Homo sapiens: one gene and its partner. The protein of the gene in region 1 purifies or fractionates together with the protein of each later gene. This does not show direct contact. Each region holds a gene or a part of one and is shown on either strand. Other genes may lie near its edges. The genes, in order: TM2D1 and PCNX3.

Region 1 (3,615 bases):
CATTTTACAAAAGATATTTCACAGCACTTTGTTTACTTTTCTCAGTTGTTAATAAAAGTATTTCAGAAGCAACAAAAATCCAGCTCTAACCTAAGCAAAAATAGGTAATTTAGTGGCTCATGTAGCTAAAAACAACTACTGGGATATACTGGGATAGCTCAAAGGATCAAAAGAAAAGCTACAGGAACCAAGGACTGAATTCTGTGCTCCCTGAGGCCCTTGGCTTCCCTGCCTCCTTGCTTAGCTCTGCTTGTCTTCATTCTGCAGAGTGGCACTCTAACTAATTGCCAACAGCTCTAGAGTCACATATTCCCAGCTCAGCAGCTCCTAATACAAAGAAAGTAAACTTTTCTTCCCCAATGTTTATATACCAATTCCAGGGAAAGACTTTTATCGATCTGCTTGGTTTTTATGCGTACTGTGGACAAACTACTATATCCATGGGAATAGATTTAATATGATTGGCCAGGCCAGGCTGCCTGTAGGAGATGAGGTTGTATCATTGACAGTCCTGCCAGAACCACCTGGAATGGAAAAGGAAGAGGTAGAAAAAAACAACACATGTTCGCTACAATCATCTTGTCCACTTAATCACATATGTGACAATCTAGTTAACATAATCTCTATAAATTACCCTCTAAGGTAGCAATCTTCAAACTGTAGCATTAAAGGTGGACAAAGATTTACCAAGGTGTATGTGGGCCCAGAGGAGAAATCAATCCTGAGAGCTTAATTCCCTAAATACTCTTTGTAAAACAAATTTGCCTGATACCATGCTACACTGGAAGCATCCTACCAGTTTCCCTTCCCACTTCTCCTCACTGTGGTCATTTCTCCCACTTGTTAACAGTAAAGCATACCTACCATCCAGGATACCCCGAGTCTTATGATGGCATATTTCCCTGAGGTGTGAAAGCCTCTGAAGTGCCAAACAAAGGGATAGCTCAAAATATTGGATTTAGGGAACTATCCTTTACTCAAAGGTCCAAAAATACATTCTACCGTATCTGTTCCAAAGATGCATTTCCAATAACATTTTACATCTTTTTGTTTAAAAATAATTTGCAACATGTTTATGCTGTTTTGATCAACTGTGTATCATTATTATAACAAGTTGATCCAAACAAAAAATCACAGAAAATTTTTAAATATTTTAATTTTAATGAATAAGATGATTCGCTAGAAGTTTTCTCTCTTTCATTTGTTTGTTTGTTTGTTTTTTGATATAGGGTCTCACTCTGTCATCCAGGCTGGAGTGCAATGGCATGATCTTGGCTCACTGCAACCTCCCCCCCGGGGCTCTAGCGATCCTCCCACCTCAGCCTCCCAAGTAGCTGGGACCACAGGTGGGCGCCATCACGCCCAGCTAATTTTGTTTTTGTATTTTTTTGTAGAGACAGGATTTCACTATGTTGAACAGGCTGGTCTCAAACTCCTAGTACTAGGATGATGGTTAAGAACATCAATTGATCTGCCTGCTTCGGCCTCCCAAAGAGCTGGAATTACAGGCGTGAGCCAATGTGCCCAGCCTAGTAGGAAGTTTTTAAACCTAAAAATATATTATATTAGGATAAAATTCTGTAGAAGAGGAATAAAAATAAAAATTCAAGGAAGAAGCAATGTAAAAATTATAATGGTTAGTGAAGAGTTCATGCACATCTTTTTTAAGTAGGTGATATTTAAAATCCTACGATATTTATATTCTGTTGGATACATTTCAAAATTGATGTAACACTTTTATTTAAATATGTAAATATTTGCAAACTAGAAGTTATATCCTTTGCAACTATTTAAACTTATGATAGAAAACTTAAATGTCAATTTAAAAATATGTGGAGAGTATGGACTTTGTTTTTGAAATTGAAGGACATTGCTATAAAGCATTCCTCATTTTAAAAATAAATTTGATCTTAAAACTATTCAACAAATACTTAATTCCTGTGATATTCCAGGTTCTATGCTAGACATTATACACTAACAGTGAATAAAATACCATCTCTGCCAACAGGGAACTTATTCCAGTGAACTACACATGTTAATATTCAAGTAGTACTTACAAAGCACATGTGTGCCACACACCATGTCAGGTGCTGTTATGCACATTGACTTACTTGTCAAAGATTAAATTGATTTGGCTTGACACTTATTTATGAGTTTACATAAAAATTAACTGTAATCCCACACTTTGGGAGGCCAAGGCAGGAAGACTGCTTGAAGCCAGAAGTTTGAGACCAGCATGGGCAAAAAAGCAAGAACTTTGCCTCTACCAAAAAAAATGAAAATAAAATATTAGCCAGGTGCCATGGTGTGCGCTTGTAGTCTCAGCTACTCGAGAGGCTGAGGTAGGAGGATTGCTTGAGCCCAGGAGTTCAAGGTTGCAGTGAGCTATGATCACACCACTGCGCTCCAGCCTGGGTGACAAAATGCAACCCTATTTAAATAACCAAATTAAGTCGGTGTGGTAAAGCACTAAACTGAAAGGAAAACTTGGAAGAGAAAGCTGTCTCTTTCTATAACTAGCTGTAGAATCAAATAATTTATTCCTTACTGGATCTCAATTTTTCTTATTGATTATAATGAAGAATAGAATAAGCTGATCTGTACAGTATTTTTAAAGTTTTAATGTCTTCTATAAGATTTAGATACAAACACCTCAGCTTAAGCCACTACAAAGTATCATCAACACACTTTTCTATGAACTATCTGGTCACAGAAGAAACTGTTTTATTTACTTTTTAAAAAAAAAAGATCAGCTATAAAGATGTCAACTATTTAGATCCACATTCCTTTGCCAAATTAAGACAGGGTGTGGTGGCTCATGCCTGTAATCCCAGCACTTTGGGAGGCCAAGGTGGGAGGATTGCTTGAGGCCAGGAGTTCGAGACCAGTCTGGCCAACATGGCAAAACCCAGTATCTACAAAAAAAAAAAATACAAGAATTAGTCAGGCACGGTGGTGCACACCTGTAATCCCAGCTACTACTAGGGAGGCTGAGGCATGAGAATTGCTTGAACCAAGGAGGCAGAGTTGCAGTGAGCTGAGATTGTACCACTCCACTCCAACCTGGGAAACAGAGTGAGGCTCTATCTCAAAGAAAAAATAAATAAATAATAAAACCTGTTTTAAGCACCCACATACACATATATAATAAATGTGCCAATTCTAACATCTGTCATTATGAGTATATGATTGTATTATTAATTATAAAATTACAAACCTTTTAAAATATCCCATACTGGATGGGAGGCTGAGGCAGGAAGATTGTTTGAACCCAGGAATTCGAGGCTGCAATGAGTTATGATCACGCCACTGCACTCCAGCCTGGGCAACAGAGCAAGACCCTGTCTCTAAAAAAAGAAAGTAAATTACCCCAATACTGGGAATTTTTTTCCTCAGTAAATATGACCATGTCCATTTGTCCATAGGCAACAGAGTATGGAACCCAAAATTATGAGTTTATTTCTCTGCTAAGAAATATCCTGAAGCTGGCTGGGCACAGTGTCTCATGTCTGTAATCCCAGCACTTAGGGAGGCCGAGGCAGGATAGCTTGAGCCCAGGAGTTTGAGACCAGCCTAGGGAACAAAGTGAGATCCTGTCTCTATTTGTAAAAACAA
Region 2 (3,817 bases), on another chromosome or scaffold:
CTCCACAGGTACAGAGTCTGGGGAGCCAAGGTCCAGGGGCTTTCCAAGAATTGGGGGCCAAGGCTGCGGGACACTCACCGGTCCAGCAGAGCCAGCAGGGCAAGCCGCTCATAGCGCACAGAGGTCCAGCGGCCAGGGAGAAGCCAGTACTTGTAACTATGCTGGGCCCGGGGTGGCGCTTCTTCCATCAGTGTCTGCTCCTGGGATTCGTGCAGGGAGTCCTGGTCCAGCAGGTCAAACTGCAGTCCCCACAGCCGCGGCCGTCAGCCCCGCCACCCCCCACATGGTCTACTGTTACCCCCCTTCAGCACACCGGTCTGGTTGACCATTTCCATCAGCACATAAAGGCCCCTGTCTAGCGGCCCTGGACCCCACCAGAACCCTTCATCTGAAAGGGCTCCTCCTCTCTCCAGGTTCCCAGGACGTCGCCCAGTGGCTGCAGGGGCTGCCTAGAGTCACCCGCTCCCACGCCTGTCTTCCCCAGTCAGGCAAACTCTCCCACCTCTTCTGAAGCTCAAGGAAGTCCACTTGTCCTTTGGGACCTGGCACAAATGCTACCCTCCTCCCAGACAGGGCCTGTCACTGTCACTCTGACTACCCCATCCGAGCGTGCATGCAGGGCTCAGCCTTGAGGACATGCCTAGGTGCCAATGCCAGCCCTGAGGCCCTGGGCACATGACTTGACCTCTCATTTGTTGTATCCTTCACTCAACAAGCACTTGTGGGGCCCCAGCTATGGGCCCGGCCCTGCCCTGGGATCCAAGGATAAAATGGCGAGCCAGAGGCACGCAACCCTTCCCTCTGGAGGCGGCCGCCGGCCACGCTTCCACCCCACATGGTTACAAGGAAGAAATGAACCAGAAGCGGGCAGGTGGGAGCTTCTGGGGGCTGCCCAACCTATCTGTGGCCTTGAGGGTCAGGTGCCGGGTACCCTTTTATGATCATTCTTTAAGCTCTAAGATGGCGTTTCACGCATTTTTAGCGCTTCTGGTGTTAATAGATTAAGTATACAAATTTACTGTCCAAACTGTGATATTCTTAAGAGTGACAGAGCGCTGGTAATGAGTATACTGAGACAGGAAGTGTTAACAGAGAGCACCCCAGCAGCCACACGTGCACAGTGTATGCAGGGCAGCACAGTCATCACAGGGTCCCTGCTTGCTAACAGAACACTGCCACTTCCGCAAGTATCATCATTAACACCCATGGCCCCTGTTCACTGTGGGACCCTCCAGAGTTAGGAATGTACTCCAAAGGAATTCGTAGTAAGCAAATAAATGACTTCTCCAGCCATTCAGACCCAGAGTCTCTGCCAACATCAAAGATCAGGACAGACACAGTAGGGCCCCTGGAGCGCTCACTCAGCACTGCCCGTCCCTCCTGGGGCACCTGGGCAAGCTCTCTATGCAGGCCGGACTCAGTGATCTGCCCGCCCCGTCACGCCCCACTGGCACGGCCCTTCCCCGGCTGCTCCTCACCTCCGGGATCTCCAGGGGCACCCGGCGCACCTGCATGCCCTGCAGAACCACAGGCCTCGGCTGCAGCAGGTTCAGGCCGCCTGTAGCCTCAGGGACATCAGCCGAGTGGAAGCTGGAGGAATGCGAGTGTCGGTCCCTGTGAGAACAGCAGCCATCAGGATCCCCCCACGGGCGAGCCCTGGGGCTGGGTGGGGTCGAGGCCGAGGCCAAGGCCAGGCAGGTAGGGCTGTCTGTGCCGAGACCAACCAGGGCTCAAGGGACAAGTGCTGGGGTCAGGTGGCAGAAGTGCCTCCCTCCCAGACCCTGGCACGAGTGTCGAGGCTGTGCCCTGGGCTTCCTAGAAACTTCCTGCCCGGAGTGTCATGGAGCCAGGGACCCCAGGAGGTCTGTCCTTTGCTGCTCCCCATCCTCTCCCTGCAGATCTGAGCTGCCCCTGCCCAAGCCCAGCAGGAAGAGAGCAAACTCCAGGCTCAGGGAACTTCCCAGAGATGCAGGCCACCAAGACAATGGCTTGGGAGGCCAGGCTTGGGAACTCACCAGGCTCCATTAGCTGTCTGCTCCCCTTGCTGCCCTACAGGGTTCTCGTAGCCGCCTCCAGCCAGGCCAAAGGTGTAGGAACGCCGCACACCTGGGGCAGGGTATGGGAGATGAGGCAGCGTGGCAGAGACAGAAGCACCAAGGCCCGGCTCACGTGGGCACCAGACCCATCAAATGAGGCAGAACCTTGTGCTGTGTCCTCTGAGAGGGCAGCCCAGCCTCTGGAGAGGAAAGGGCCTACAGGTCAAGAGCCTGGGCGCGGCAGTCACCTGTCCTAGCTTTAGATCTCCCCTGTACTGTAAGCTGAGCCTCTGTTTCCTCATCAGCAGAGCAAAAGATGACAGAGACACCGTGCCTCAAAGAGGCTGCAAGGATGATGTCTGGCAGCATTAGCAGTGTACCTGCCACAGGGCCGAGCGAGCACCACTGCTAGGAGGACTCAGGCTGTTGGGGGAAGGCGGGGAGGCACTGGGCCACCGGGCTTGGGAAAGGCTCACCGCTCTCATCGTAGAAATAGTGCACAGCACCCTCAGAAGTGTCATCAAAGGTGCAGGCCTCATGCACATTGGCACCGGCCCGGGTGAGCAACAGTGAAGAGGCGAAATGCAGCGCAGAGGGCAGCGTCAGCGCCCGGGAGTGGGAGGCAGCCCGGCCCCGCTGAGCTTCCTGCAGGCTGCTGGAGAGGGTCAGCCCCAGGTCAGCGCCAGCTAGAGCTTGCGGGCCCTCCCCGGCCCCCGGTGCCCCTCGGCACAGCTGGCAAGGTGCTCACCTGGGCGGCGAGCCCATGACAGAGGCTGGAGGGGTGGGGTTGCTGCCTGCATTGTGGCGTCTCCGAATGGCCTGGGTCCGCCTCACACTGCTTGAGCGGTCCCGCCTGCCAGTCTCCTCGGCCGCTGCCCAGAGAGAGGCCCCCAAGTGTAAGTGACAGATGCTCAGACAAGGCTGGGGGAGTAAGGTTGGGGACGGTGTTCCGCCAGGGAGCTAAAGGCCTAGTACAACCACGCCCCGGCTCTGAGGCCCAGCCAGGTCACACAGCCCCATGCTCAGTTTCCTTACTTGCAAACAAGGATGACACTGATCGGCCCTGCCCCACCCCACTGGTGGTGGGAGGATGAGTGTGGATGATGAGAGTCCTCAGGGGACAGAGACTCAGGTGCTAATCAAGGATGTGGAGCCAGGTGGCTGAGCCCCATGTCTAAGAGGTTTGGCAGACAATGTCAATCACCACCAGGCCCACGTCCATCTGCTGCCTACAACCGAGGCTGAGCTGACACTGACCAGGTCCATTCTTACCTGCCCTTTGCCCAACCCCAAGCCCGTAGCTCACGTCCCCCAGCCCCTGCCTCTAGAGCAAGCACTCACCTCCCCCCACAGCACCTTCCTCCTGCAGCTCCCCCCGCCAGCCGGGCTGGTTGGCAGCGGGTCCCCTTCGCGCCTCAGCAGGCAGCACAACAGGCTCACTAGCAGCCTGCTCCACCCCAACCTGGGCCTCCAGCTCTGCCTTGCAGCCAGCCAGTGGGGGCCTCAGAACATCACCCCCAGCCCCATCCATGCTCAGCACACGGGCATGTGTTTTAGCGCTGGCGGTACTAGGCGTCCGCTGGGTCCCATATGGCCGCTTGGGGGGCACAGCAGTTCCCTCCTCAGCCCCATGGGGGGCCCTCCGCTTCCGGGGTCCCCCTGCTGCACCCCGGGAGCTCTCAGGGGAGTAGCAGGAAGTAGAAGAGGAGCTGTCAGTACTGTAGCGGCGCTGCGATCGGAGACTGGAGGCCGGGCTCAGTTCACTGCCCTCACTAGTGTCT

The links.
Region 2: the proteins of TM2D1 (region 1) and PCNX3 purify together in Homo sapiens (affinity purification with mass spectrometry; one large-scale study listed by BioGRID and IntAct). This does not show direct contact.

Annotation. Positions count from the first base shown.
Region 1 is NC_000001.11:61,683,575-61,687,189, forward strand, and holds part of TM2D1 (TM2 domain-containing protein 1 precursor), read right to left. Parts: intron 3,348-3,615; coding exon of another isoform or gene 3,218-3,347; intron 1-3,217. UniProt on the Homo sapiens protein: May participate in amyloid-beta-induced apoptosis via its interaction with beta-APP42.
Region 2 is NC_000011.10:65,618,628-65,622,444, reverse strand, and holds part of PCNX3 (pecanex-like protein 3), read right to left. Parts: coding exon 3,378-3,817; intron 2,909-3,377; coding exon 2,785-2,908; intron 2,692-2,784; coding exon 2,513-2,691; intron 2,107-2,512; coding exon 2,016-2,106; intron 1,615-2,015; coding exon 1,479-1,614; intron 240-1,478; coding exon of another isoform or gene 201-239; coding exon 79-200; intron 1-78.